Linked DNA regions of Homo sapiens. The protein of the gene in region 1 purifies or fractionates together with the protein of each later gene. This does not show direct contact. Each region holds a gene or a part of one and is shown in the gene's direction. Other genes may lie near its edges.

Evidence for each region.
Region 2: the proteins of ALDH3B2 (region 1) and SLC25A13 purify together in Homo sapiens (affinity purification with mass spectrometry; one large-scale study listed by BioGRID and IntAct). This does not show direct contact.
Region 3: the proteins of ALDH3B2 (region 1) and ZMYM2 purify together in Homo sapiens (affinity purification with mass spectrometry, with the first as the bait; one large-scale study listed by BioGRID). This does not show direct contact.
Region 4: the proteins of ALDH3B2 (region 1) and CLN6 purify together in Homo sapiens (affinity purification with mass spectrometry; one large-scale study listed by BioGRID and IntAct). This does not show direct contact.
Region 5: the proteins of ALDH3B2 (region 1) and SFXN2 purify together in Homo sapiens (affinity purification with mass spectrometry; one large-scale study listed by BioGRID and IntAct). This does not show direct contact.

What each region holds. Positions count from the first base shown.
Region 1 is NC_000011.10:67,670,748-67,677,751, reverse strand, and holds the start of ALDH3B2 (aldehyde dehydrogenase family 3 member B2), read left to right. Parts: upstream 1-3,128; 5' UTR 3,129-3,316; intron 3,317-3,772; exon of another isoform or gene 3,773-4,018; intron 4,019-6,224; exon of another isoform or gene 6,225-6,689; intron 6,690-7,004. UniProt on the Homo sapiens protein: Oxidizes medium and long chain fatty aldehydes in lipid droplets into non-toxic fatty acids.
Region 2 is NC_000007.14:96,184,895-96,189,598, reverse strand, and holds part of SLC25A13 (electrogenic aspartate/glutamate antiporter SLC25A13, mitochondrial), read left to right. Parts: coding exon 1-18; intron 19-220; coding exon 221-305; intron 306-4,584; coding exon of another isoform or gene 4,585-4,587; coding exon 4,588-4,672; intron 4,673-4,704. UniProt on the Homo sapiens protein: Mitochondrial electrogenic aspartate/glutamate antiporter that favors efflux of aspartate and entry of glutamate and proton within the mitochondria as part of the malate-aspartate shuttle.
Region 3 is NC_000013.11:20,063,204-20,069,420, forward strand, and holds part of ZMYM2 (zinc finger MYM-type protein 2), read left to right. Parts: intron 1-1,247; coding exon 1,248-1,342; intron 1,343-3,647; coding exon 3,648-3,816; intron 3,817-4,035; coding exon 4,036-4,187; intron 4,188-4,880; coding exon of another isoform or gene 4,881-4,907; exon of another isoform or gene 4,908-5,153; intron 5,154-6,217. UniProt on the Homo sapiens protein: Involved in the negative regulation of transcription.
Region 4 is NC_000015.10:68,215,272-68,221,488, reverse strand, and holds part of CLN6 (ceroid-lipofuscinosis neuronal protein 6), read left to right. Parts: intron 1-2,838; coding exon 2,839-2,953; intron 2,954-6,217.
Region 5 is NC_000010.11:102,715,947-102,722,163, forward strand, and holds part of SFXN2 (sideroflexin-2), read left to right. Parts: intron 1-287; exon of another isoform or gene 288-381; coding exon of another isoform or gene 382-383; intron 384-667; exon of another isoform or gene 668-765; intron 766-1,489; exon of another isoform or gene 1,490-1,823; coding exon of another isoform or gene 1,824-1,834; intron 1,835-6,217. UniProt on the Homo sapiens protein: Mitochondrial amino-acid transporter that mediates transport of serine into mitochondria. Involved in mitochondrial iron homeostasis by regulating heme biosynthesis.

The sequences.
Region 1 (7,004 bases):
TGCTGAATTCTTTTATCAGTTTTAGGATCTTTCTGGAGGAGTCCTCAGGGTTTTCAAGGTAAACAATTATATCATCAGCAAACAGGGACAGTTTGACTTCCTCTTTATCGATTCAGATGCCCCTATTTCTTTTTCTCATCTGATTGCTCTGGCTAGGACTGCCAGTAATATGTTGAAGAGGAGTGGTGAGAGTGGGCATCCTTGTCTTGTTCCGGTTCTCTGCGGGAAGCCTTTCAACTTTTTCCCGTTCAGTATTATGTTGGCTGTGGTTTTGTCATAGATGGCTTTTATTACATTAAGATATGTCCCTTGTATACTGATTTTGCTGAGGGTTTTAATCATAAAAGGATGCTGGATTTTGTCAAATGCTTTTTCTGCATCTATTGAGATGATCATGTGATTTTCATTTTTAATTCTGGTTATGTGATGCATCACATTTATTGACCCTCCTACGTTAAACCACCCCTGCATCTCTGGTATGAAACCCACTTGATCATGGAGGATTATCTTTTTGATATGGTGTTGAATTCGGTTAGCTAGTATATTGTTAAGGATTTTAGCATCTATGTTCATCAAGGATATCAGTCTGTCATTTCCTTTTTTGGTTGTGTCCTTTCCCGGTTTTGGTATTAGGATGATGCTGGCTTCATAGAATGAATTAGGGAGGGCTCCTTCTTTCTCTATCTTGTGGAATAGTGTCAAAAGGATTGGTACCAATTCTTCTTTGACTGTCTGGTAAAATTCTGCTGTGAATCCTTCTGGTCCTGGACTTTTTTTTTGTTGGTAATTTTAAAATTACCACTTCCATCCCGCTGCTTGTTATTGGCCTGTTCAGGGTATCTAATTCTTCCTGATTTAAACTAGGGGGGTTGTATTTTTCCAGGAATGTAACCATTGCTTCTAGGTTTTCTAGTTTATGTGTGTAAAGGTGTTCACCATAGCCTTGAATGCTCTTTTATATTTCAGTGGTGTCAGTTGTAATATCTCCTGTTTCATTTCTCAGTGAGTTTATTAGGATTTTCTCTCTTCTTTTCTTGGTTAATCTTGCAAATGATCTATCAATTTTATTTATCTTTTCAAAGAACAAGTTTTTGTTTCATTTACCTTTTGTATATTTTTTCTGTTTCAATTTCATTTAGTTCTGCTCTAATCTTGGTTATTTCCTTTCTTCTGCTTGGTTTGGGTTTGGATTGTTCTCGTTCCTCTGTTCCTTGAGGTGTGATCTTAGATTGTCTGTGCTCTTTCAGACTTTTTGATGTAGGCATTTAGGGCTATGAACTTTCCTCTTAGCACAGCCTTAGCTGTATCCCAGAGGTTTTGATAGGTTGTGTCACTGTTGTCATTCAGTTTGAAGAATTTTTTAATTTCCATCTTGATTTTGTTTTTGACCCAATGCTCATTCAAGAGCAGGTTATTTAATTTCCAGTTATTTGCATGGTTTTGAAGGTTCTTTTTGGAGTTGATTTCCAGTTTTATTCCACCGTGGTCTAAGAACATGCCTGATATAATTTCATTTTTCTCTTGTTGCCCAGGCTGGAGTGCAATGGTGTGCTCTCAGCTCACTGCAACCTCTGCTTCCTAGGTTCCAGCAATTCTCCTGCCTCAGCCTCCCGAGTAGCTGGGATTACAGGCACATGCCACCACGCCTGGCTAATTTTTTGTATTTTTAGTAGAGACAGGGTTTCACCATGTTGGCCAGGCTGTTCTGGAACTCCTAACCTCAAGTGATCCACCAGCTTCGGCCTCCCAAAGTGCTGGGATTACAGGCATGAGCCACCGCACCCGACCTATTTTACATTTTAACAATTGCTACTGAGGTTGAGCATATTTTAATTTATTTACGTCTATTCAGGCTTCTTGTCAGTTCAGTTTAACAAAACAAAACAAAACAGCTTATTGAGATAGCATTCACATCCCATACAACTCACCCATTTACAGTGTACAATTCAGTGGTTTGGAGGCAGTGGGCCTCCCCAGTGGCCATAACCCATCTGCTGCTCTTAGATGGGCCTTAGCATTCTGCCCTGTATTCCCTTCCCCATCCCGAGGTCCCTTCCTGGTGTCACATTGGCATTTACATCTTTAGCTACCGAAGATTCCAGGGCCAGGGCTTGGTCTCAGGCTGTGGCCTCCGCTGGGCTGTCTCCAGTCACAACCAAGGGTTATCTCAGATGTCCCTCCTGCCCACAGGGCTGCACACTCTGCCAAGAGACTCTCTACAGCCCTCAGCAGGGCGTGTCCTTGGTCTCAGGCTTGGGGGAAGGTGGGGTGGGGACAGAGTCAGGCCATCCATGAAGGACAGTGGCAGGACCTGAGCTCATTCTGCTCCCTGGAACCTAGAAGGTGCTCAGCAAATACTTGTGGAAACATTAGCGGGCAACATTGAGGGGCACTGATTTTGTGCCAGGAGCTGTGATCTGCCTTTTCCATTCTCACGTCTCCCTCTGTGACCCTCTCAAGAACCATGGCAATTAGGTGTTATTGTTACTTCCGAAAGGCTCAGAGACGTTAAGTAACCTACCCACGGTTGCACAGTAAATAAATAAACCAATGAACAATGCGCCATCCTAGAGCTACAGGTGCCGTCGCCCATCAAGGGTCTCTCTGCAAAGATCTGAGCCCCTTCCTCTGCCCTGAGTATGCCAGCTGGGCACACTGAGAGTGGAAATAGAGCCACAGTTGCTCATCTTGACCTGTGAAGCCTGAAGAGTGAGGACAGGAGAGGAGGGAGATGAAGATTTAGCATAGAGACCCTAGGAGGGGCCATGGGGGGCATGGGACCACTGTGGCTGGGGCCTGGGAGGACTTCCTGGCGAAGGCAGCATTTGCCACCAGGATCCTGCTGATATTTTCATCCTGTGACCTTCCCCTGGGGTTCTTTTTTCCTGATCAGGTAACTCCCTGCTAGCCCATTCCAGGAAACACAGAGCAAAGCCTCAGACAGCCTTGACTTGTCTAACCTGTTCCCAAGCCGGCTGTGCAGTGTGGTCCCTGGGGGCAGGGCCCTGGAAGAACAGGGCAGACACCGAGCAGCTATAGGTCCTGGCAGTGAGACAAGGGTAGGCATGGGAATTGGGAGGTGCAGCCCTGCCCCACGCCTGTTGGGTAACACTGAGCATCACCCCATTGATTACCCCATTGCCAGGCGTGGGCACGGGAGTTGGTTTGGGAGCTGCCAGTCTCCTGGGAGGATCGCAGTCAGCAGAGCAGGGCTGAGGCCTGGGGGTAGGAGCAGAGCCTGCGCATCTGGAGGCAGCATGTCCAAGAAAGGGAGTGGAGGTGCAGCGAAGGACCCAGGGGCAGAGCCCACGCTGGGTTATGTGGGGCCACAGGGGTGAGGGGCGGGCAGAGGGAGCTCAGGGTAAAGGACACTGGTGGGAACCAGGGGCATGGAGGGAAGGGGATGTGTGCCCATGGCCCGTGGGTCAGGGGGCAAGCCCACCAAGGGGCCTATGGCTGCAGGGGCCATGGGTACGGGGCTTGCTCAGGAGAGGGAGGTGGGTGCTGGTGTCTTCTGAGCCTCACTTTGCCCTTTGGCAGGCTCCTGGGAAGCAGCCACAGAAATGAAGCCTGTTCCCCAGGAGCCCCAGGGATGGGGACAGACCCCGTCCTCCCTTTGAGGAGCTCCCAGGTTAGAGGAGAAGGCAGCTCTGTGGACAGACAAGGATTGGGTCGGGGGCACCAGGGCTGTGATCAGGAGGTGCCGGAGAATCGGGGATTGGAAGCAGAGAGATTCTTGGCAGTTGAAGCGAAAGTCGGATCTTTGGTTTCAGATGTTAAAAGCAACATGCATTGCTTGTTTCTGGTTCTAGAAATACTACATTCGCATTTAGAAAGTCTGGAAGCTGCAGGAAGATGTTGAGAAGACAGTGAAAGGCACGAGGCACACATTGGCACATGGTGTCACAAGGCTGGTGTGAGGAGAGGGGCTGGGGGGCCTCCCTCCTCGCACTGAGGCTGTGAGGAGGGCAAATCAAGTCGTCTCTGGGAGCCTCGGTTTCCCTGTCCTTCCAACTGGGTAATAATAATAGCTGTGAGGCTCAGATGAGATGTGCATGCCAGCTACCTGGCCCCAGATGCCAGCTCTGACTTCTTTCTGGGCCCTGCACCAGGCATGGCCACTGCCAAGGGAATGAGTCCCCTCTCCATATGACAGGTCCCATCAGGCCTCCACCTTCCTGTGTGTCTTATTTCTCAGCATCTGCCCCCACAGGGCTTTTGCACACGTTGGTCCCTCTGTCCAGATCACCTGCCCTCCAAGAGGCCCTCCCCTACGGCTTCCCCGCAGCAGTCAGAGCCAGGGGTGGGTCTCTGGCCACCTCTGGAAGAAGCCCTGGCCCACCGATCATGTTTGTAATGATATTGTTTCCGGTGTCATTGTTCCGTGTGTAGACTGTGAGCTCCATGGGGGCTGGCCAAGTCTGGGGTGGTCACCTATGGGACCCAGGTCCAGTCAGGAACTGCCTGGTGAGCAGCCAGAGGTCCCCAGTGTAAACCCAGAAAATCTGAGACGGGTCTCAGTTAATTTATAAAGTTTATTTTGCCTGTAATCCCAGCACTTTGGGAGGCCGAGGCGGGCGGATCACGATGTCAGGAGATCGAGACCATCCTGGCTAGCACGGTGAAACCCCGTCTCTACTAAAAACACAAAAAATAAGCTGGGTGTGGTGGCGGGCACCTGTAGTCCCAGCTACTCGGGAGGCTGAGGCAGGAGAATGACGTGAACCCGGGAGGCGGAGTTTGCAGTGAGCTGAGATCGCACCACTGCACTCCAGCCTGGGCAACAGAGTGAGACTCCGTCTCAAAAAAAAAAAAAAAGAAAAGAAAAGAAAAGAAAAGAAAGAAAGAAAGTTCATTTTGTGGCCAGGCGTGGTGACTCATGCCTGTAATCCCAGCACTTTAGGAGGCTGAGGCAGGTGCATCACTTGAGGACAGGAGTTTGAAACCAGCCTGGCCAACATGGTGAAATCCTGTCCCTACTAAAAATTATAAAAATTAGCTGGGCATGGGGGCGCATGCCTATAATACCAGCTACTCGGGAGGCTGAGGCAGGAGAATCATTTGAACCTGGGAGGCAGAGGTTGCAGTGAGCCGAGATCATGCCAGTTGCACTCCAGCCTGGGTGACAGAATGAGACTCCATCTTAAAAAAAAAAAAAAGTTAATTTTGCCAAGGTTGAGGACGTGCACCTGTGACACAGCCTGGGGATGTCCTGACAGCATGTGCCCAAGGTGGTCGGGACACAGCTTGGTTTACACACTTTAGGGAGACAGGAGACAGCAATCAATATATGTAAGAAGGCCAGGCACGGTGGCTCACGCCTGTAATCCTAGCACTTTGGGAGGCCAAGGCAGGGATCACCTGAGGTCGGGAGTTTGAGACCAGCCTGACCAACATGGTGAAACCCCGTCTCTACTACAAATATAAAATTAGCCGGGCATGGTGGCAGGCACCTATAATCCCAGCTATTCAGCTATTCGGGAGGCTGAGGCAGGAGAATCGCTTGAATCCGGGAGATGGAGATTGCAGTGAGCTGAGATCCCACCACTGCACTCTGGCCTGGGCAACAAGAGAGAAAGTCTGTCTCAAAAAAAAAAAAAAAATACATATATATATACACACACACACACACACACACACACACACACAAAATACATACATACATATATATATATATATATATATATATATATATATATATATATATATGAAGTACATCGGTTCCATCCAGAAAGGCAGGGACAGCTTGAAGCAGGGGGTGGGGGTGAGGGTTGGGGCAGCTTCCAGGTCACAGGTAGGTGAGAGACTGCATTCTTTTGAGTTTCTGATGAGCCTTTCCAAAGGAGGCAATCAGAATGTGCATCTATCTCGGTGGGCAGAGGGGTGGCTGTGAATAAAATGAGAGGCAGGGGCCCGCACGGTGGCTCATGCCTGTAATCCCAGCACTTTGGGAGGCCAAGGTGGGCGGATCACCTGCGGTCAGGAGTTCAAGACCAGCCTCAACATGGAGAAACCCCATCTCTACTAAAAATACAAAATTATTTGGGCGTGGTGGTGCATGCCTGTAATCCCAGCTACTCGGGAGGTTGAGGCAGAAGAATTACTTGAACCTGGGAGGCAGAGGTTGCGGTGAGCTGAGATCGCAGCATTGCACTCCAGCCTGGGCAACAAGAGCGAAACTCCGTTCCAAAAAAAAAAAAAAAGGGGGGGGAGGCAGGTTGGCCCTGATCAGTTTCCAGCTTGAATTTTCCTTTTAGCTTACTGATTTTGGGGGTCCAAGATATTTTCCTTTCACACCAGTCAGCCCTGCCCCAGCAAGCGCCCGGACCCCTGCCCTGCAGCAGGTGGGCGAGACAAGAAAGCACCTTGCATGAGAGGCAGGGCTTGGGTCCAGCTCCAGCCCCCATCTGTTTCCTCATCCGTCAGGCAGATGCTGCTGGCTCCGTGATTATTTCACCGAGCACCAGATGTGCACATGTGAGGACAGGCGACGACTGCCCAGAAAGGGCAGGGGTTCCTCTGCCCCACCTGCCTCACCTGGGAAAGCTGTGACCACGCTGAGGCCAGGTTCCTGGGATGAACATCAGGACACCTGTGTGCCATAGCTCATCCCAGACTCCTCCAATCCGGGTCTTGATTCAGGCCGGAGGCGGTCATCCCTCCAAAGGCACCAGGGAGCCATGGAAGAGGTTAGAGCTGAGCTGATGTGGCCAGGAGCTGCTTGAGCGCCGGGTGGAGGCTGCTGACGCTCGCATGCCAGGCAAAGCTTTGGGTCAGGGCCCTGGAACCTGGGACCTGGAAGCGCTCCAGGCCAATACCGCCCGCTACCAGAGAAGGGCCCAGGCCCCACCCAGGTTCTAGCCCAAGGGCTTGAGCAAAGACAGTAGATGAATATTTGCAGAGCCCTGTATGCTGCGTCCTCCTCCAGGCCCTCATGCAGGGGGGCCGCACACTGAGTGTGGGGGTCCTGTGCCAGGAATGTGATCACGCTGCCCAGGGGAGGG
Region 2 (4,704 bases), on another chromosome or scaffold:
TTTATATGAGCCAAGGGGGTAAGTTGGCTTTTTTTTTTTTTTTTTTGGAATTAGCTTAATAAAAGGAGGTTAGGAGGAGGGCAGCAATCAGGAGAAAAAGAAGCCAAACTGAAGGCTATACTGAAATATGAGAAATGAAAAAAGGGATGTTTTTAAATTTTATAATGTAAATTGTAATAAATTGGTATATTTGTTGCTTGTGTTTGTTTTTCCCCTACAGACGTATGACCTTAGCAGACATTGAACGGATTGCTCCTCTGGAAGAGGGAACTCTGCCCTTTAACTTGGCTGAGGCCCAGAGGCAGGTGAGCAAAGAGGAGCAAACTTGCATTCTGGGGTTTCCTTAGCAGGATACCCCAACCCTGTTCCACTTGCAGTTGCCTTTGCGGCATTGGTATCTGACTTAACCATTTTTCTGTTTTGCACCAAAACTCTCGATAAATTTTAAAGGCTGTAAAGAGAAATTGCTTAGAAATGGTGTGATAAACAGGTATTTGGCATTTGCTCATTTCTTGCTAAGGTGGAGTGATTTCCTAACTGCACCAGAAGCCTAATGCTCCGAAAACATGAAGGAGGTCTTTTCTCCTTTCTTGAAGTCTCATGTTGAGAGATGTAGCGAAAGAATCCCGTGTTGGTGTCACTGTGCCTGTCGGCAGCTGCACGTTGCTAAATGAAAGCCGTCTTTGCTCTGTGGAGCAGCCCTTCATCAGCGCATCGTCTAACTGCCATGCCTTCCGTTTTTCTGAATATCAAAATGAGATAATTTTGTTTAGTCTGGAGTTACAGTTTAAAGGCTTTCAGACCTATTTTCTCTGTGAAAGGATTCATAAGTTATATGGAAACAATTTTAGGAATGCTAAATTTTATTTTATGGTTAACAGAAACCAATCTCTTGAAGTTGTGGGAGTCAGAAACTTAAGACATGGAACTTTCTCCTTTAACTCTTACCCAGCTTTCTGTAGATCAGGATTAGAGAAGAAAAGCCTTCATAGCATGTGTTAGTAAAATAAATGGTGTTTGTAAAATAAATCCACTCACAGGCGAGTGTCGTTTTTAGAAAAATTTCTCCTTTTAGGCAGAGCCATCTCTGAATCCTGTGAGACTTCGCAGTTTCTGGCATGGAGCTCTGGGTTTGTACAGAGACGCCAGTGTGACCACAATGGGTTGCTGCAGGCTACACTTTTAGGACTGTCAGACCTTGAGCCAGGGCCCCCTTCTTTTAGCTCTTTCCCACCCAAATGCAGCGGTGAGTTTTGTGTGCAGCATGCAAGTCAAAGTAGTGGGTGTGTGCTCAGTAAATTCTAACGAGCACCTCTGGAAAACCAGCTGGCCTTGCTTAAAAGAGGAAGCCGATTTCTCTGAGTGCAGGAGAAATAACTATAATCACGTGTAGAGGTGGAAGCAACACTGCTCTCCCTTCCCTTTGATTTTTAACACTGCTTAGGAGATGATTATCTCTTCGTCTGTATGCCACCAGCTATTGTAGAAATTTGGGGATTAAGAGAAGCAGAGAAGTTTTTTTTAGATCCCTCCTACTCTTCAGCTGGCAGCGGCTTCCCACAATTTTTCCTTTAAGCTCTTTGCAGCTTTTGAGAGTTTATGATGGGTGCTTGTTGATACTGGCCATGAAAGGGTTAGACCAGATTGATGAGATTTATAGCAGGAAATGATTCGCTGCCGCTTAGAGGTTTAGAGCAATTCACAATGGCCTTACCTGGAATAGGCTTTTTACTGCATGAACCCTAGTGGGCCCGACAAATTCAAGCAAGGGAGGTCGTCCACCTGTGGGCACAGCGCTGCCTGTCCAGCACTGTGCAGCACTTGTAGCATTTATCCTGGACAGAGGAGTGAAGGAGCAGAGTTTTGTCTCATTTCAAGAACATGCTACAGTTCTGGCTTTGGAAAAGTTAAATAAAAGTCTAGGATTTCATTTGTCTTTTAGGAGAGGAATTAATGGTGGTGGTAGGTCCCTCCTCCCCCCACCCTCTATAATTTTCAGAGTATTTTCACTCATTATTTTGATGCCAGAACATTTCTAAGTATTGCATATTTATATCCCTGTAAATAAAATATTGCTTCTCTTTTGGATGCATCTGTCAAAATGAAGGTACTATTGATTTCCATCTATATAGGGCTACAGTTGGAAACAACTCATAGAATTTGCAAAAGAAATGTTTTGTATCTTAAAGAGGCATATTTCTATGTAAAGCTATTTTCAGTTAAGTGACTTTGAAGGAGATTCCAAATGATCTCATTGTATTAGAATTGTGTTACATTGACAGCAACTAAAATTCAGTGGGTTGATAGCTGGGGTTGCTGATTATTTTCATTGTTCACTGATTTTAATTATCATGGATTCTGAAAAACAAATTTTATTGAATGTATGTATTCATTCAACAGGTATTTATTAAGCACTGACTATATGTCACCCTCATTTGACAACTCTCTGTGACATAAAATTACTGTTTTATTTATGCAGACAGAGAAGTGCAGCACTCTGAAATGTTCTGGCATCAAAAACACTGTGAGGATAATAGGTCAAAAGAACCAGAAAACAATGACTGACTGACCTGAAGTATGAATTTAGAAAAGATGGACAAAAAAAGAGAAAAAGTAACGATCAACTGTAATACAGCCACCTAGTTTTAGCTACTGTAAATGTTTTGAGTATCTCTGGGTGGTAGGGAGGCAAAATATTAGTATTAATTTTATATGCATATATATGTAAACCTCTTACAAGCATTTTTAATAAAAAGTGACATCATTTTGTATATAGTCTTAAAAATTGTTTTTAAAAAAATTACCAGGAAATAGGTCAAACATTTAAATAGGTACAAAGAATCATATGACAAATACCTATCTACTTACCATGCTCTTTTTAGCCTATGTTTTCTTTTATAATTCCTTGTGAACATTTAATATCAAATATTCTTTTACAGTATCATTTTGAATGATAGGGTTTTGTTTTAAAGTTATTATTTTTAAAGGCTATAGTCCTCCGTTATTGGACATTTAGAATATTTCCCAAATTTTTGTTCTTTTTGTTTAAAGAGCAAAAATTTGGGAAATAATCGAAATTTCCAATAAGTACTACAAATGTTTTTTAAGTGCTACATTCTTGTAGCTTGTTACATGCATGATTATCTTCTATCCTAACTTTTTTCTTTTTGAGACGGAGTTTCACTCTTCTTGCCCAGGCTGGAGTGCAGTGGCGCGATCTTGGCTCACTGCAGCCTCCGCCTCCCAGGTTCAAGTGATTCTCCTGCCTCAGCCTCCCAAGTAGCTGAGATTACAGGCATGCGCCACCACGTCCGGCTAATTTTTTATTTTTAGAAGAGACGGGGTTTCTCCATGGTGGTCAGGCTGGTCTCGAACTCCTGACCTCAAGTGATCCACCCACCTCGGCCTCCCAAAGTGCTGGGATTACAGGTGTGAGCCACTGCACCCAGCCTATTCTAACTTCAGAGGTTATGTACATTTTAAGGGTTTGGGTGTATATTACTAAACATCTCTCTATTTATGCTTGCTTTAATGGCAAATTTCAGAAGGCTTGTTATCAACTTTTGCCAGGCTGGGTATTGCCACTTAAAACAAAAACAAAAATACATACAAACCAAAAACCTGCCAATTTGATTGATGAAAAATGATGTCTCATTGATGTTTTTATTTGCTTTATTTACTTTATTTTATTTTATTTTTTTGATACAGTCTCACTCTGTTGCCCAGGCTGGAGTGCAGTGGCGCGATCTCGGCTCACTGCAAGCTTCACCTCACGGGTTCACGCCATTCTCCTGCCTCAGCTTCCCAAGTAGCTGGGACTACAGGCGCCTGCCACCACACCCAGCTAATTTTTTTCTTTTTTTTGTATTTTTAGTAGAGACGGGGTTTCACCATGTTAGCCAGGATGGTCTCAATCTCCTGACCTCATGATCCACCCACCTCGGCCTCCTGAAGTGCTGGGATTACAGGCATGAGCCACCGTACCCGACCTATTTTTATTTTTGAGATAGAGTCTTGCTCTGTTGCCGAGGCTGAAGTGCAGTGGCGTGATCTCAGCTCACTGCAACCTCTGCCCCCTGGGCTCAAGTGATTCTCCCTCCTCAGCCTGAGTAGCTGAGACTACAGGCACATGCCACCATGCTGGTCTAATTTTTGTGTTATATTATAGAGATGGGCTTTCACCATGTTATCCAGGCTGGTCTTGAACTCCTGTGCTCAGGTAATCCGCCCGCCTCAGCCTCCCAAAGTGCTGGGATTACAGGCGTGAGCCACCGTGCCTGGCCTCAGTGATGTTTTTAACTGTGCATTTTTTTTAATGAGAATTTGAAAATAGGCTTATAACATCATTTTTGTCAAAGGATGGTTTTGATTATATTGAAATTTGGTTTTAAACATTAATAGCACTAAAATCTTTTTATTAATAAGAACTTATGAAATCCATTCCTACTTTTTTCCTTGACATTTTAGTTGTATCATGGATTTAGAACCCAATGAGTAATGTTTAAAGTTAATGTATGGTCATTTTTGTTTTATCTTCTTTTCTGTCACCTGTTTTCCTGCTCTCTGATTCCTGTGCATGCAAAGCAGAAGGCCTCAGGTGATTCAGCTCGACCAGTTCTTCTACAAGTTGCAGAGTCGGCCTACAGGTTTGGTCTGGGTTCTGTTGCTGGAGGTTAGTCATGGATGAGAGAAAAATTTTCACTT
Region 3 (6,217 bases), on another chromosome or scaffold:
ACCAGCCTGGGCAATGTGGTGAAACACTGTCTCTACTAAAAATATAAAAATTAGCCAGGCGTGGTGGTGCATGCCTGTAATCCCAGCTACTCGGGAGGCTGAGGCAGGAGGATTGCTTGAGCCCAGGAGGTAGAGGTTGCAGTGAGCCGAGATTGTGCTACTGCACTCCAGCTTGGGCAGCAGAGTGAGACCCTGTCTTTAAAAAAAAAAAAAAAAAAAAAAATTCTAGAAGTAATTCATTATAGAAAGTTTAAAGAAGTGTTTGTGTCCTTTTTAATTTAAAAATGTTGTTAGCATCTGGGTGCGGTGGCTTATGCCTGTAATCCCAGCACTTTGGGAGGCCGAGGTGGGTGGATCACCTGAGGTCAGGAGTTTGAGACCAGCCTGGCCAACGTCGTGAAACCCCGTCTCTACTGAAAATACAAAAATTAGCTGGGCGTGGTGGTGAGTGCCTGTAATCCCAGCTACTGGGGAGGCTGAGGCAGAATTGCTTGAACTCAGGAGGCGGAGGTTGCAGTGAGCCAAGACTGCACCATTGCACTCCAACCTAGGCAACAAGAGCAAAACTCTGTCTCAAAAAATATATATATATAAAAAATATATAATATATATAATACATAAATATAATTTTATATATTATATACATCATGATGTATATAATATATAAATATATACAATATATAATATAAATATAATTTTATATATAATATATATTTTATATATATTATATAGTTTTTATATATATAATATATATAGTTAGCTTTTTTTTAAGATCCTTTGAAAATTAAGTTCACCTTCAAAGGAAAAATTATTTTCAGGTCTTTTGTAAAATAAGTGTGCCCCATTTTTCATTATTTTCTTAATCCATGGATGGCTAATGAGCACACTGAGTAGAATGTAAAACATTAGTTTTTGGAAAAAACATTTAATAGATTGAATCAGATTTGTACCAAGACCATTTAGATCTTGTAATTGGATTTCAGACTATAATAATTTTTCTGGTATCATACATTTTCATGAAAATTTTATGTTGATATTCATTTTATATATGTTTTTAGGAGTTTGAACAGTGTTTGTCAGAATTCACAAACCATGTTAGGTACAATGAGTCATTTACTCCCCAGCCCAGCCTAGATTGTCCCCATGTATGAATGCTGGTTTACATCCTGTGGTTAGTTCTTTGTTGGCTGTGTTTATGTAACCCTGTGCTATTTCATTTAAAATAAAAGTTCTGATTTGGTTGTCAGCTGCTGAGGAGCTTGATATGGAAAATGAATTTTTATTACCACCTGTTTTTGGCGAAGAATATGAGGAACAGCCCAGACCTCGATCTAAAAAAAAGGTACATTCACTTAATAGCCTATATAACAATATTTCTCTATAGGCAAACAAGGATACAGTGTTCTTTTAGTGTGCCTGAGAATATGGGAACATATTTTGTTTTCTAGGTTGGAAAATAATTTATTTTCTATTTATATAGAATATAGTAATAATATATTACTGCTATTTATTACTATTATTTATTACTATTTCTATTTGTATAGAAATAGTAATTATTACTATTTCTAGTAATAATAGTAGTAATAATTTATTTCTAGTAATAATTTATTACTGTTTCTAAGTAATAAAAATATCTCAGATTTAGTTGATACCTCAACTAAACTTGTATTGATACAAGGTCAAAATAGAAAACAGTTGCTAAAGTAGTAAGTTCAATTATTTGACAAAAATTTAGACTGTTTTCTAGGGAGCTGTTTTTTCCACGATTATTTCTGATGAGATGATCAGTGGGGTTGAAGTACACAGTTTATTATTTCTGGTCTCTTTTAGGCATACCAACACACATAGAAAGACATGCTGGACAGTTTGATCATTCAGGTAGACCAAATCTACATGCATTAACAAGTGTAATTGTTATAATATTCTGTCAACTTTCTGTGTTTCTGACTTCCAACATAAAGCAGGTTTTAAAAATACCTTAAGAAAGATAGCTTTCACAAATTGTCCCCAAAAGAAAGAAAAAAAACCGGAAAAGGGAGAGAATACTTGGAGTGGAATGAAGGTGGACTTCTGCTTGACACCAAACACAACAATTAACTCAAAATGAGCCATAGACCTAAATGTAAGAGCTAACAATATAAAACTCTTAGAAGAAAACATAGGCCTAAATCTTAATGGCCTTATGTTAGGCAGTTTCTTAGGTAAGATACCAAACGCACAGGGAAGAAAAGGAAAAATAAATAAATAAACTGGACTACATCAAAATTAAAAACTTTTGCATTGCAAACAGTGCCATCAGGAAAGTGAAAAGGGGGCCAGGCACAGTGGCACCTGTAATCCCAGCACTTACAGCACTCAGGAAGGCTGAGGCGGGAAGATTGGTGGAGCCCAAGAGTTTGAGACCAGCCTGGGCAACATAGTGAGACCTCTACAAAAACTAAAAAATAAAAACCAGCCAGGCATGGTGGCACGTGCCTGCAGTCCCAGCTACCCAGGAGGAGGATCGAGGCTGCAGTGAGCTATGATCGTGCCACTGCACTCCAGCTTGGGCAACAGAGCAAGACCTCTCCTCAAAACAGAACTCCAGCATGGATACTTACCTGGCAGGGGAGATACCGTGATTACAAAACTCTAGCATGGGTGACAGAGCAAGGCCCTGTCTTAAAAAAACAAAAATAAAACAATAAAATAAAAAAGTGAAAAGTACTTAAGTGTCACTCTCTATAAGGTGGAGTTGTTGAAAAGTTCTTCAGTTTCTGTTACAGTAATATTTAGATTATTAGTTTATTGTCTTATATTTATTTTCTCATCATTGGTGACTCTCACCACAGAATTTAATATGATTTTGTTGCACAAAGTGATTTATGTAGAAACATCACATTTCCTGGAATATTAATTGACTGTTGTCAGATTCAGGAATACCAGTCAGTTCAAAGCAAATACCTATATTTCATTTTTTCTTTTCTAATTTCATGACACATTAAACAAATAACTATATTTTTATGACAGATTAAACAGATAACTATATTTGTAATTACAGATGACCGTTGTACAATGCAGTGGTTGGGCTCTGATCCCCCCTGCACAGTCACAAATTTGTGTATAACTTTTGACTCCCTAAAAAGTTAAGTACTAGTAGCCTACTCTTCACTGAGCCCCCCTGCACAGTCAAAAATTCATGTATTACTTTTGACTCCCTAAAAAGCTAACTACTAGTAGCCTACTGTTGACTGGAAGCCTTGCTGATAACAGTTGATTAACACATATTTTATATGCTACATACTGTATTTTTATAATAAAGTTAGCTAGAGAAAATGTTATCAAGAGAATCATATGGGAGAGAAAATATATTTACGATTCATTAGGTGGAAATAGATCATCCTCATTGTCTTCAAGTTGAGTAGGCTGAGGAGGAAGAGGAGAGAGGTTGATCTTGCTGTCTCAGGTGGCACGATTGGAAGAGGTAGAAGGAGGTTGGAGAGGCAGGCACACAGAAAAACATACGTGTCCAAGTGGACCCCTGCAGTTCAAACCCATGTTGCTCAAGGGTCAATTGTAATTTGCCTTTGTTGAGAGATGGCTTGTATAAAGTAATGAAATAATGTAGGCTTTAAAAAAGATATTATTATGGTGTTTTTTACTAATAGGGAGCCAAGAGAAAGGCTGTATCAGGATACCAGTCTCATGATGATAGTTCTGACAATTCAGAATGCAGCTTTCCTTTCAAATATACGTATGGCGTAAATGCATGGAAACACTGGGTCAAAACTAGGCAACTTGATGAAGATCTTCTGGTATTAGATGAGTTAAAATCTTGTAAGTGTTTTAATTTTGTTTCTCCTAAGTCCTATTTAAAATCAAGATTTCTGTTATTGAGTACCTTTAAATTTAAAAAACATAAATGTAACTTAAAATACCTGTAAGAATGCATTTTATTTTACTTCAGAGCTCTTACAAAGAATAACGTCAGAAAGTTTCTTAACCTTAATAAGACGCTAAATAATAACAATTATTTTTTATTTTATGTATTTTTAGCTAAATCAGTAAAGTTAAAAGAGGATCTACTCTCTCACACCACAGCTGAGCTTAACTATGGGTTAGCTCATTTTGTCAATGAGATCCGACGGCCAAATGGAGAGAATTATGCACCTGACAGCATCTATTACCTTTGCCTTGGAATACAGGAGGTTAGTAATTTGATGGCTGCTTTCAAGTATAACATTAATAAGAAAAGTTGTGGTAGTTCTTGTTTCTGTAGCATTATGGAACCTTTATTGACTTACCAAGAAACACATCTACAAAGTTGTATGTTTGCTGCCATTTATATATAAATGATAATCAGGATGACATTCTTTCCTTACCCATTGCAGATAAGTGAATTCACATTATAAGGCATGATATGTAGCCACATCTGGCTATAGATCCATGCTGATCTACATGTAAACAGAAAAATGTCATAACTCTGTAAATAGGTCTGTTTCACTGTATGCTTCTGATGTGTTTCTAACTTGTTAAATAGTATAACTACTCATTAATTCTTTGGCTATTTCATAAAAAGAGATCATTCTTTAGGGGTAAAGATAAACTTCATCCACATGTCTATGAATTTGTTTTCTACAGTAAACATGGAGATCAACTTTAAATAATGACCTCTAGTTCTGAACAGATTCCACAGATTTGTGCCCAGAAGTCAGAAAGAATCTCCAACTTGACATTCTATGTATTTTGAAATATGGTAGATGACAGGGGAGATCTCTTCAGAGTTTTGTTTGTAGGCCTAAAAATTCATTTTATTCTGCTAACAGGTGTTAGATAATGAAGTAAATCACTGAAGAAAACTAGAATTGTCTTAATTTGTGTTTTTTTTACTTTTTCTTTAGGATAGAAATTTGCTTAAGATTCTGTAAGTGGTGGTGCAGATATATAGTGCATGGCTATAAATCACTGTATTCAAGGACCATCATATATCTTGCAGTAGCAACCTAAAAGATACGTGAATAGGTTTACTTTTTTCTTATTCTCGTTTTATAGGTTTACATGTACTTTGAGCCTCATGCTTAGATGATAATATAGGTCCACCATTCCACAAACCTCTGAAAAGCAGAATTTTTTTCATGAAAACACAGTAAACAGTAAAACCTAACTTAAAGGATTGTGAAGCTGTTGTTGTCTTTATTACTCTTGGTGTTAATATTCGTCCATAGAACATTAACCATAGAATTTACTATAGAATTGTTAATGTTTCTAAACAAGTACAGAGTGTTTACCCACACCACTCTAGGAATATTAATGTATTATAATTATGTACATGCCCTGTTTCCCCTGTAAAATCCAAACAATGATGAATTCCAAAACATGTGACTCCAGTGGTTCTGGCTGAGGGGTTGAAGATCCATGTGTGTATTTTCCCTCCTCTTCTTTTATTATACCTAGGAGGGAGGGGGAGACTAGGAGTAGCATTTATACTGTACCAGGTGTAGATGAAATTGTCTTGGTCCTCTAGTTTCAGAACAATTTATTTAAGGAGAACATTTATATTTTAGAAATAATTCTGTTATCTAGATCAATTATTTTTTAAAGTGCTGTAGAGAGCACTAGCGTTGTGCCATATCAACTCAGCAGGAAGAGAGTTTGAGTTCTAGGCTCCTCTTGTTTTAATTCATTCCTACTTTTGGGGGCTGTGTTTTGGGGTTATGTATGGAATTTCATTTAGAAATTTCATTTCTGGTAGAAACAAGGCTTAAAAACATATTTAGATAATAAAACTTTTAAAATCAATAAAAACAACAAAATAAGGGGTTCTCTGCCCCACTGATCTCTAGTCTACCTAGTTCCTCTCCCTAAGGACGTGCTTTTTGCTCTTTTAGCTATTTCCCCTGGCATTACTTGCAAAATATAACTGATTTTTATATATTCATCAGTTCACTATTCTAGTAGGTGGTCTTGTTTTGTTATTTTTTAAATATATCTTAGAATTTTCTATATACACAATCATGTCACCTATGAATAAGGACAGTTTTACCTCTTTCTGATCTTTCTTTGCTTTGCTTTACTACATTGCTTGAAACCTTCCCCCATTTTTCTCTCCTGCCACCCAAACCCTAGTCCTAGTACAGTGTTGAATGGAATTAGTGATAGCAGAAACTCTTGCCTAGTTCCTGATCTTAGAGGAAAGTATTTTGTCTTTGACCATTAAGTACGATGCACCCTTTAGGGT
Region 4 (6,217 bases), on another chromosome or scaffold:
AGGCCGAGGCGGGCAGATCACTCGAGGTCAAGAGCTGGAGACCAGCCTGGTCAACACGGCGAAACCCCGTCTCCACCAAAAATACAAAAACCAGTCAGGTGTGGCGGCGTGTGCCTGCGATCCCAGGCACTCGGCAGGCCGAGGCAGGAGAATCACGGGAGCCCGAGGCAGGGAGGTTGCAGGGAGCTGAGATCACGGCAGTACAGTCCAGCCTCAGCAACAGAGGGAGAAGGAAGAAGCGAGGGAGAGGGGGAGGGTTGGGGGAGGGGGGAGGGAGATCCCTTTCTAACCTGATCTCCTGATAAGCCTAGTAATCAAAAACAGAATAGCAAGCTGTTGGCCAGACATGGTGGCTCACAGCTGTAATCCCAGCACTATGGATGGCTGATGTGGGTTGATTATTGAGCCCAGGAATTTGAGGCCAGCCTGGGCAACATAGTGAGACCTCATCTCTACAAAAAATAATAATAATAATAATAATAATAATAAAATAAAATTAGCTGGGCATAGTGGCATGCACCTGTGGTCCCAGTTACTCAGGAGACTGAGGTGGAAGGAATGCTTGAGCCTGGGAGGCCAAGGCTGCAGTGAGCTGTGATCACACCACTGTACTCCAGCCTAGGTGACCCTGTCTCCAAAAAACAAAACAAAAAAACAGAATAGCAAGCTATTAAGAGCACAGGTCTTGAATTAACATAAACCCAGGTTTGAATTGTGTGTGTTATTCAGGACGACTGGGTTGCAAGTGACAGAAAGCCAGTGTGAACTGCACCATCCTTAGCAAAAAGGAATGTGTTGGCTCATATGGCCAGATCATGAACTGGCAACATGAACACTGTCAGCACTTTTTCTCCCCCTTTCCCTGATCCTCTCTGCGAGGCTACTTCATTCTTACCTGGATGTCCCTTGAGGGTGGAACCTTGGCTGTAGGCAGTCCTGGGCTTGCACCCTTAGAACCCAGCACTATAAAGGAAGGAGCTCTTTTCCTCACCTGCAGTTGGAAAAGTCCCACTGGGCCAGTCTAGATCACTGGCCCTTCCTGTGGCTAAGAAAATATCATGTCTTACCAGAAGAAGCAGTGGGTGGGAAATAGGCTGACAAAAGGAATTGTTGCCACAGCTCCTTACTACACGGGTGGCTTTGGCTAAGCACCTAATCCCTCTAAGCCTCAGTATCCTCATCTGTAAAGCAGATGCGTGGATTAGATGAGATAGTGCAGGTAAAGACCTAGCATTGCACATAGTTGGTGTTCAGTGAGGGGGTGGAAGATACCGAGTAGAGGGGACAGGAAGACTTAGCTGACCTAGGGAAGGCCTACCCAACCTGTCTTGCCTGCCACTAGAAAATGAGATTTCTCCCAAGAGCTTGCCTCCCTGTCCTGGGGTACTCTACCAGCCAGTATGGATCATCCTTGGAACTGGCAGGAAGGGATCTCAGAAAATTAGGGAAGCAACAGCAGTATCGACAGAAGACAGTCTTTGCAGTGCCTCTAAGCTAATGTTTGCCACTACAAAAGGAGTAACTGGTCGTTGTGACTGTTTTAATCAGCCAGTAGTTGCTGAGCATGGACCAGGGCCTGAGCTCAGAACTCTGGAGGAATACAGATTTGTGGTCCATGGCGCCTGTTCTTGGCACAAACGAGACGATGAAACCCACACCTCAGTCCTCTTAGGATGTGGCTGGCTGCTTGTCCCTGGAGGTGTGCAAGTAATTGCAGGGACTCTGTAAAGAGGATTTGGACTCTGATAGGGAGGTGGGTGAGTTGGGAGAACCTTAAAGGTCACCCCTGTTCTCGAGGGTCTAGATGGGAGAGTACAGCTCCAGCCCCATTATGCCAGACTGGGTTGGCGTTGAAATGCTCCCTGCAGTGGGCTGGTGGGGCTTTGGGAAAAGCTTCATCAGGGAAGCCTTCCCAGAGGAGGCAGCACTGGTCCTGGAACTTCAGTGCATCTGTGAACAGCAGATGACCAACTGTTTAGTGAGAGGGACAGGCCTCCAAAGATGTATCGTGAGGCAGTACTCCACTTCCTGCTGTGTCTCTCACATCACCTTGCTTCTGCTGGCTCCTTCTCAGGTTCTACTGTGGACTGCTGAGAAGAGGATTACCAGCAGCCCAACCTGACCTCCTCACAGTGCTGGAATCAAGCGAGCAGGAGGCCCTATCCATTTCAGTCTCTCTAAAGCACATTTCATTGGAGGGCTCTGATTGGCCAAGCTCTGGTCACATGCCCATCCCATAGACCAATCCTGATGGACCCAACTATGGGATGGAGGTTAAAAGTATAAGCTCAGGAGCCCAATCATTTGGGTTCAAATCCTTAGCTGTGTGACCTTGAGCAAGTTATTGAGCCTCTTGGGCCTCAGTTTTTTCGTTTCTAAAATGGAGGTAATATTTCAGCCTTGAAAGGTTTCTGTGAGGATTAAATGAGATAATACATGTAAACAGCTAACAGTAGTGCCTGGGATATAGTAAGTGCTCAACTAAGGTCAGCTGCCATGATCCATCATCAAGTTTCATGCTTTTCAGCCACGATTGCGTCCTTTGCCTTTCTTGATTTCCTCCATCTTTCAGTAGCGGAGAAACCCCAGCAATTACACCTGTTCAGCTGTTTCCTTCCTGAATCAGAGAGAAGCTAAGGTCGGGGCAGCTGAAGTCCACCTTCTCCTTGACCACAGGGCCAGACCCCAGTATATCCAGCAAAACCCTATCCATAGAACTCAATTATGTGTGTCTCCTCCTGTCCTCAAGTCCCCAGACCTCTTTGTGGCTAATCTCAGGGGAAGATTTTGGTGGAGGAGGAGAGAAGAGCTGACTTCTCTCGTCTGGTTCCTTCCCAGGCATGGCTCTGTGAGCGCTGATGAGGCTGCCCGCACGGCTCCCTTCCACCTCGACCTCTGGTTCTACTTCACACTGCAGAACTGGGTTCTGGACTTTGGGCGTCCCATTGCCATGGTGAGTGTGAAATGGTGCACAGGGCTCTGACCAGCACTGAGGACACTTAGTGTGGCTTGAATTTGCCGAGTGACCTTAGACAAGTCACTTCTCCTTTATCTCCTAGTAAACTGAGAGAATAGGCCTGGATGCCTTCATATCCTTAGCTCTATGACTTGGCCCGTCAGGCAACTGCCAGCAAGTGGGGGGCCTGAAGAGTCATACTTTGCCCCAACTCTCATGGGGGAACTGGTGGTCCTGAACAGTCATACTGTAATACTGTAACCCCCTCTGGCCTGTGTCTGGAAGCAGGTGAACCAGGTTGAACCAAATCACCAAGACAGACAAAGGGGTATAGGAAAGGAAGTGGAGCACCGCACCCCCACCTCCGTCTCCCCTGTCCTTCCCCATTACCTTGGGATAGTATTATTTTTTCTGGAGTTGAAGGGCGTAGGCTGATTTTGCATATTATATATGACTGTGAGCCATGGGTAATTTTTAATGCCATCCAGTGAAACCATCCCCTGCCTTCCAAGGCTACTTCATGCTTTAGTATCCAGTGGTGGCCTCCACAGACAAGATTAATGCTGGGAGGGCACCAGTGCCCCTTGCTTGTAGTGGGAGGATGGAAGATAGATAGGTAGGTAGGTAGGTAGGTAGGTAGGTAGGTAGGTAGGTAGGTAGATAATTGACAGATGATAGATAATAAATAGACGAACGTGAAGAAAATTAAGTGAGATATCACCAGGTATCAAGTCATTATTTGGTAGTGGGGGCACAGTGTGACTATTCATGGCCCCCAGACCCCTCCCACCCAACTTGCTGACAGTTGCCTGACGGGCCACAGTCATAGAGCCAAAAGATATGAAGGCATCCAGGCCTATACTCTCAGTTTACTGGAAGATAAACGGGAAGTGACTTTTCGAAGGTCACTCAGCAAATTCAAGTGTAAAAATAACAATATCCAGTGCTGAAACTGGCACTTTGTACATACTAGTGATCATGCAAATTAGCAAAGCCCTTTTGGGGCCGGGCATGGTGGCTCATGCCTATAATCCTAGCACTTTGGGAAGCTGAAACAGGAACATCACTTGAGCCCAGGAGTTTGAGATCAGTCAGGGCAATATAATGAGACCCTGTCTCTATAAAAGATTTGTAAATTAGCTGGGTGTGGTGATGTGCACCTGTAGTCCCAGCTACTCAGGACTGAGCTGGGAAGATCTCCTGAGCCTGGGAAGTTGAGGCTGCAGTGAGCCGTGATCACACCGCTGCACTCCAGCCTGGGCAACACAGTGAGACCCTGTCTCAAAAAACAAAACAAACAAAAAGCAAAGCCTTTTTGGAAAGCAGTAATAATTCATAAGTAACAACTTGGCAAGATTAGTACTTAGAATAGTGCCTAACACAATAAGTGTTTAATGCATTTTTACTGAATGAATAATAATTATAGCAAAGTTAGAATAGTGGCTAACATCGAATGTTTACTCTGTTCTAAGCTCTTTATGTGTTTCAGTTTATTTAATTCTCATATCAACACTATTGCTGATCTCAATGTTATAGATGAGGAAACTTGAGGAGAGAGAGAATAAGTAACTGGCTCGAGGTCAAGCATAGAGGCCAGCATCTGCCCAGGCATTCTGGCCCTGGAGCCCCTTTCTGACAAGGTTGAATTCTCTGTCACATAAATATCCAGAATCCTAATATATTCATCCCTCTGACCCAGTAATACCCTTCCGAGAATCTGCCCGTAGGGATATAATCAGCAAGAAGACAGCAGTTTCCTCTAACTCAAAGATGTTCATTGCAGTGGTGTTTATGATAGCCAAACCTTAGAAGTGACTTGCGTGTCCAGCATTAGGGACTGGGTAAATCAGTTTTGCTATGTCCATTATAGAGAATGTTTCCTGGCAATTAAGCAGAAATTATGGATACTATAGAGCAACCTGGAATATTTAAGGAGAAAAAAGGTTCCTAAATGACATGCAGACTGACTAATTGCAAGTCAATAACGAGCTTGTCTACCTGGGATCAAAGACTTGATAGGTGTAAAGAAAAGCTGTCCTGGCAATGCTGTCAGGGAGTGATGGTGGGTGCTGGTTCTCCTTCCTGCAGTCTTTTTGAAGGTTGCCTTTTAAATGTGGAAAAATAAGAGGAATTGAGCCAAGAGTTGGGGCATCTGGTTGGGTTTGTGGGTGACCTAGGGCAAGTCACTGTCCTGGGCTTCATTTCTCTCTCCAAGAAGACTGGCTGGACTGGCTGCTCTGAACCTTCTTCTAGCATGAAGGAACCACATACTGGGGGCCAAAGAAGCTGCCCATCAAACTGGTGCTAGAGAGAGAGATGAGGCCAGGAGTGGGCTCGTGGCTCCCTTCACTCACTAGGACCCAGCTTCTACTGGCATAACAGGGTCTCCTATTGGGCAAATCACTTCCCCCATCCTGCTTAGAGCTGCTGTGACCACTGTAACCCTAAGTAGGACTTGGTGGAACGTAGACATTTGAAAAGCTCTTGTATACGCTAGAGATTTTCAAATGTATGCATAATAGTTGCAAATTTGTTAAAAACAAAAACATTTACAAGTTATAAAAGTAACATGTCATAGATGTAACATAGTTGTAACATAAAGAAGTGTTAGACTCTCCCTACCCCTTTCCTGTCCCACTGCTGACAGTTTCGGGAACACCCCTTTCACTCTTCTCTGCTTGTACAAACACATATATACATCCTTTTCCCTTCTAACCATAATGGGATTTTGCTTTATACTTTATTTTGCAACCTGCTTGTTTTCCTTTAGAATATATCATATGGTGGGCATGGTGGCATGTAATTCCAGCACTTTGGGAGGCCAAGGCAGGAGGATTGCCTGAGGCCAGTCCTGGCAACATAGCAAGACCCTGTTTTTACAAATAATTTAAAAATTAATGGTGCTTGGTGCCTGGCACCTGTAATGCCAGCACTTTGGGAGGTCAAGGTGGGAGGATCGCTTGAGCCCAGGAGTTTGTGACCAGCCTGGTCAACATAAGGAGACCTCATCTCAATAAAAAAGAAAAAAGAAAAAAAAATATAGCTCTCTCTCCATGTCAGTACATATAAGGTGTCATTTCTGTTAATGGCTACTTAACCTTCCATGGTAAGAAGTACTATCAGGGATTCAACTGGTCCTGTTTGATTGAAGAGTCAGCCTATTTCTGATGTTTTGCTATCACAGAGTATTTTAGCAAGTATATATATGATGTAGGTAAAGAGGCAGATAAACACATGCACACTGAGTAAGAGAGAGAGAGA
Region 5 (6,217 bases), on another chromosome or scaffold:
ATGAAAACAAAAATCAACATCTGCTGCTTGCATACCTGCTTCAGATCCTTGGAGAGAAAAAGCAGTTCAGAGCCTTGACTAAGGAGGTGATGAATGGAGGTGATACAGGAGCACAAACCCCTATAATCTACTCATCTCCAGACTGTTGGCCCTTTTGTGAAAAAGGCAAGGGAGGTTGCTCTTTCTAAGTTGTCTGGTGCCTAACAGCCCACTTGCCTTGGAGTCAGACGAGTACCCATAAGCCTATACCTGGGCCTGCTCTTGTAATTATTACCCTCATTTTCCAGCTTGCTCTAGGCAGCCTTGACCTTAATCCTTGCCTGTCTCAGTGGTCTTTGTGTCTGACCTTCTGGGGTCTTTGGCTACCTTGATCTTCCTCTGATGTGAGTACCAGCGATGATGTTTCGTTTTTCTCCCTACCTGGGGCTACAAACAGTAATCTTGTGCACTTCTGCTTGTAAGAGGATACCTCAGAAGGAATTTGGAAGCTTGTTTTCTGATCTCTGATACCATTTGCCAGAGAAAATCTGCTCTTTCTGGGAAGGATGAGCATTACGTCAGAGGTGGCAGTAGTCTATTACTTTTTTTTTCTCTTTGTTTCCCTCTCTTTCTTTCCTTTTTTTTTTTTTTTTTTTTTTTGAGATGGAGTTTCACTCTTATTGCCCAGGCTGGAGTGCAACGGTGCGATCTCGGCTCATCACAACCTCCACCTCTCGGGTTCAAACGATTCTCCTGCCTTAGCCTCCCAAGTAGCTGGGATTACAGGTATGCACCACCACGCCTGGCTAATTTTTTATTTTTAGTAGAGACGGGGGTTTCTCCATGTTGGTCAGGCTGGTCTTGAACTCTCAACCTCAGGTGATCTCTCTGCTTTGGGCTCTCAAAGTGTTGGGATTACAGGTGTGAGCCACCGTGCCAGGCCTCGGAGTTGGCAAGTAGGCTATAGTGGATAGAGGACCTTGGGGAAGTAAGGCCTTAGCTGTTGTCCAATCTTTGAGGACTGGATCTGTTGATTGTTCGTGTTTATATCTGCTGCAAGCGCTTAGTGCAGGGCCAAGTGTATCAAAAATGCCCACTGTGGTGGCCCAATCCATGTGCACCTTTCTAGGCTTCAGTTTCCTCTTCTGTAAACTGAGATCTTAGATCACATGTCTTCAGGCTATGACATTCTCTCTCTCTTTTTTTTTTTTTTTTTTTTTTGTGGAGACGGAGTCTCGCTCTGTCACCCAGACTGGAGTGCAGTGGTGCGATCTTGGCTCACTACAACCTCCGCCTCCCGGGTTCAAGCGATCCTCCTTCCTCAGCTTCCTGAGTAGCTAGGATTACAGGTGCGTGCCACCACGCCTGGCTAATTTTTTGTATTTTTAGTAGAGACAGAGTTTCACAGGGTTAGCCAGGATGGTCTCGATCTGACCTCGTGATCCGTCCGCCTCGGCCTCCTAAATTGCTGGGATTACAGGCGTGAGCCACTGCGCCCGGCCTCAAGCTGTGACATTCTCTAATCCTAGGAGGGAGATATCATTAAATCACTGGTCTGATTTTTACTCCTACTTTGTTCCTAGTAGTGGGACCATACAGAAGTGGGGCTACCCTGGACATGATGATGACCTTTTTAGGGAAGACTAGATGTGGCTTGTGTGGGAGGAGGGACAGTAACTGTAGAAGAAAATTTAGAGACCAGTATGACTTAGTACAGGCAAGGTAGACAGTTTTGCAACTTCATGAAAGAAAGCGTGCTCTTAATTCTGTAACCTAGGCAGGTTCTAAGTTTGACTTAAAAGAGGTGACATCCTTGATGCCAAGAGACCCAAGAAGAAGTTGGAATGCATTTCAGGTAAGCAGTAAATATTCTTCGAGGGCATGTGAAACATGTAGCAGTAAACATCACAGACATGATCCCGATGCTTGTGAGCCTTACAGTCTGTCAGGGGAGGCAGACTTTACACAAATCACAGTCAATGACAAGAAGGTGACAATCACAAACGCCCAGCATGCTGCAAAGGACAGGATGCTGTAGGAGTATATATCACAGAAGGATTTGAGTTTGTCCTGAAGGAGTCGGGGAAGAGTGCCCATTGGGGGACAGTGGGTGTGTGGGGGGAAATGTTCCAGACAGATCGTTTAGTGTTTTTTTTGTTTTGTTTTTGTTTTGGCTTTATGTTTTATTTAAGACAGGGACTCTGCAGTTTCTATCCTGACTTCAATTAAGAAGGCAAAGGCTCTTGCATAATTAGCAAATGTTTAGATTACCCCTTGATGATAGTCCCTCCATTCTGAGAAGCAGAGGACTTTGCAATGTTGTGTTAAGGTGAACAGAGATGTCAGAGAAGGTCTGGCTCTGTGTGTATGTGTGTGCTGAGGGGGAGGCATAGCATTTTGCTCAGTCAGGCTGTCTCCAGCATGTATGAGCCTGGGGCTCTGTAAGCCAAGGCAGCGTGTGTTCAGCCAGCCAAGCTGACTCCTTTTAGGTTCATGTAGAGCATGGGAAAGTGAACTCTTTCCCCTCCTCCCACTCTTGCTTCAGCTGGGACTGAGATAAATGCCTTTGGTCTTTGAAGCAGCCTGCAGGAGGCCAGGTGGCAGGGAGAGGGGAAGTCTGTTTTGGCAGTGGACTCTTTCTGTCTGCCTTCTGACTTCTCTGGAGATTGCCGCTTCAGAGAAGCATCGGGGCCAGGCCAGGGCGCTGTGGATACTCCATATTGAGCCTCTCCTCTTGTTCCTGGTCTTTCCTCTTAGGAAATGGCGTACCTCCAGCATATCAGCTTCCTGATGTCTCTTCCGCCTTAACGAAAAATCTAAAAATTGACCACTGCTCTTCCTTCCCCAACACTGTCCCTTCTGCCTCCTTTCTTGAACTTGAACTCCTGGCCTCCCAAAGTGCTGGGATTACAGGCCTGTGCCTGTCTCCACCTCCTTTCTCTCTTCTTTCTGGTGGTTCTTCCCATCTTTGGGGGCTTCCTTTTCTCGGCTTCTTTTTTTTTTTTTTTTTTTTTTTTGAGACAGGGTCTTGCTATGTTGCCAAGATGGAGTGCAGTGGCGCCATCTCGGCTCGCTGCAACCTTCACCTCCCGGGTTCAAGTGATTCTCCTGCCTCAGCCTCCCAAGTAGCTGGGATTACAGGCGCCTGCCACCACGCCCGGCTAATTTTTTGTATTTTTAGTAGAGACAGGGTTTCACCATGTTAGCCAGGCTGGTCTCAAACTCCTGACCTCGTGATCCGCCCGCCTCAGCCTTCCAAAGCACTGGGGTTACAGGCATGAGCCACCGTGCCCGGCCTCAGCTTCTTTTTTTTTGAGACAGAGTCTCACTCTGTTGCCCAGGCTGGAGTACAGTGGCACAATCTCGGCTCACTGCAACCTCCGCCTCCTGGGTTCAATCAATTCTTGTGCCTCAGCCTCCTGAATAGCTAGGATGATAGGTGCCTGCCACCACGCCCAGCTAATTTTTGTATTTTTTTTTTTTATTAGAGATGGGGTTTCACCATCTTGGCCAGCCTGGTCTCAAACCCCTGACCTCAGGTGATCCACCCGCCTCGGCCTCCCAAAGTGCTGGGATTACAGGTGTGAGCCACTGTGCCCGGCCTTGGCTTCTTAAATGTCCTGATTTTTCAGGGTTTGTCCTCAGCTCTCTCCTCTTCCCATTCTGTGTGTTCTCACTGGAAAACTTTATCGTAAATCACCTCGATGCTGCTGACTCAGTTTTTTCCTTCTAGCTCTGACCTCTGTTTCCTTTCAAGCCTGAATACCCACAGGCTGATGAACTTCTTATTCAGCAAATACTTGAATATTGTGCTAGGCACTGGGGTGACAGTCGTGAGCAAAATGAACATACCACCTCACTTCACAGGTGAATTATTTAACTTAGCTAAGGTGCTATTTCCAAGAAAAAAACAAAATGACCTAGTAGTAGAAGCTATAGAAGTAAATCTGAAAATTATTTGTACAAAAAAATAAAAGGACAAATAGGTACTATTTAGTGAAGAGAGGAAAGACTAGCTTTTGAGTATTGTGTTTGGAAAGGACCTGAGACAGGAAGAGGCCTATTGCATTTAAGAAAATCCCGGCCGGGCTTGGTGGCTCACGCCTGTAATCCCAACACTTGGGGAGGCCGACGCGGGTAATGGGTCACGAGGTCAGGAGATCGAGACCATCCTGGCTAACACGGTGAAACCGCGTCTCTACTAAAAATACAAACAATTAGCTGGGTGTGGTGGCACGCACCTGTAATCCCAGCTACTCAGGAGGCTGAGGCAGGAGAATTGCTTGAACCCAGGAGGTGGACGTTGCAGTGAGCCGAGATCGCACCACTGCACTCCAGTCTGGGTGACAGAGCAAGACTCCCTCTCAAAAAAAAAAAAAAAAAAAAAAAAAACCCATGGCAGGACCGGGGCTGGTAGCTCACTCCTGTAATCCCAGCACTTTGGGAGGCTGAGGCAGGTAGATCCCTTGAGCTCAGGAGTTGAGACCAGCCTAGCAACATAGGGAGACCCTGTCTCTACAAAAAATACAAAAACTAGCCGGGCATGTTGGCACATGCCTGTGGTCCCAGCTACTTGAGAGGCTAAGGTCAGAGGATCGTTTGAGCCTGGGAGGTGGAGGCTGGAGTAGTGAGCCATGATCATACCACTGTACTCCCACCTGGGCAACAGAGCAAGACCCTGTCTCAAAAAAAAAAAAAAATCCCATGGTATTTGAAACTTAACATGCAGAAATCAAGCTTACTATTAATATTTTCTCCCTCAAAGCCAATTTTTCTGTGCTCTCCCTGTTAGCACCTATCGCCCAAGTCAGAAACCCTAGGTATCACTCTGGATATTTGTCATGTGTCAACTTGGCTAAGCTAAGCAAGACTCCCGGGATTCCCTCTCTGGTATATTCCAGTTATAGTGGCTACCCAGGAGCACACACACACCATCTTCCAGCTCTTCAGACAAACAGTAATCTAGGTGCTGCTGTGAGGGGATTTTGCAGACCTAATTAAATTCCTCAATTGTTTGGCTTTAAGTTAATCAAAAGGGAGATTATCCTGGGTGGCCTGACCTAATCAGGTGGAAGCCCTTTAAAGGAGGGCTAGAACACCCCTGAACCCCCTCTGAGGTTCTGGACTCTGAGCCATTACCCGCGTTGCTCCCTCTCCCCTGGGATGGTCTGTTGCTGGCCGCCTGCCCTGCTGACTTCAGGATTGCCTAGCCAACAGCCACAGTTATGTGAGCCAATTCGCTAATTCCTTGTGATAAATCAATTTCTATATTTTATCAATATTATATTACGTCAGCATTATATATATTTAGGCCAGGAGTGGTGCATGCCTGTAATCCCAGCACTTAGGGAGGATGAGATGGGAGGATTCCTTGAGCCCAGGAGTTTGAGATTACAGTGAGCTATGATTGCACCACTCCACTCTACCCTGGGCAACCAGCTGAGACCCTGCCTAAAAAAAGAAGAAAAAATTATAAAATCTATATAGATAGATCAACATATATTTATAACATATAAAGTTATATATTTATATATGATTTTATATAGCTATATGAATTATTTATGTTTATATATTATTTTTATATGTTATATTTAAACGTAATTCATGTCTATATAAATAAATGTATATATAAATTTATATATTATAAATATATGTTGCTATATCTATAAATTTAAAAAATTATATATTTATATAGTTATATAATTTATATATTTAGAAAATATATATTATAGTATACAAATATATTTTAGAAATATATAAAATATGTATATGTGTGTGTCATAGCCAGGTGCAGTGGCACACACCTGTAATCCTGGCACTTTGGGAGGCCAAGGCAGGCAGATTGCTTGAGCTCAGGAGTTAGAGGAACTCCATGTTGCCCCATGTTATGTTTTGGTATCTACCTGTCTGTCTGTCTGTAATCTACTGATTCTGCTTCTCTGGTTGAACCTTGACTGATAAAATGTTCCTCTTATACCTATTGCTTAGCAGACCTTAACATTCCGCTTCTTTGAAAGATTCTCTCCTGTTGGTCTCTCCTCTGAGTGCACGTGGGTTCATTTGAGCCCTACCTCTTCTTGCCTGGATTACTGGGGTTCTCGTCCAGCTGGTCTCCCTGCATCCCGTGAGGTCCATCCACATCCTGTTTATTCTCATGACTACCCAGTTTGTTCTTAGTAAACTACATATCTGATCTTGTCACTCTTCTTCTTAAAGTCTTTCAATGACTCCCTGAAGC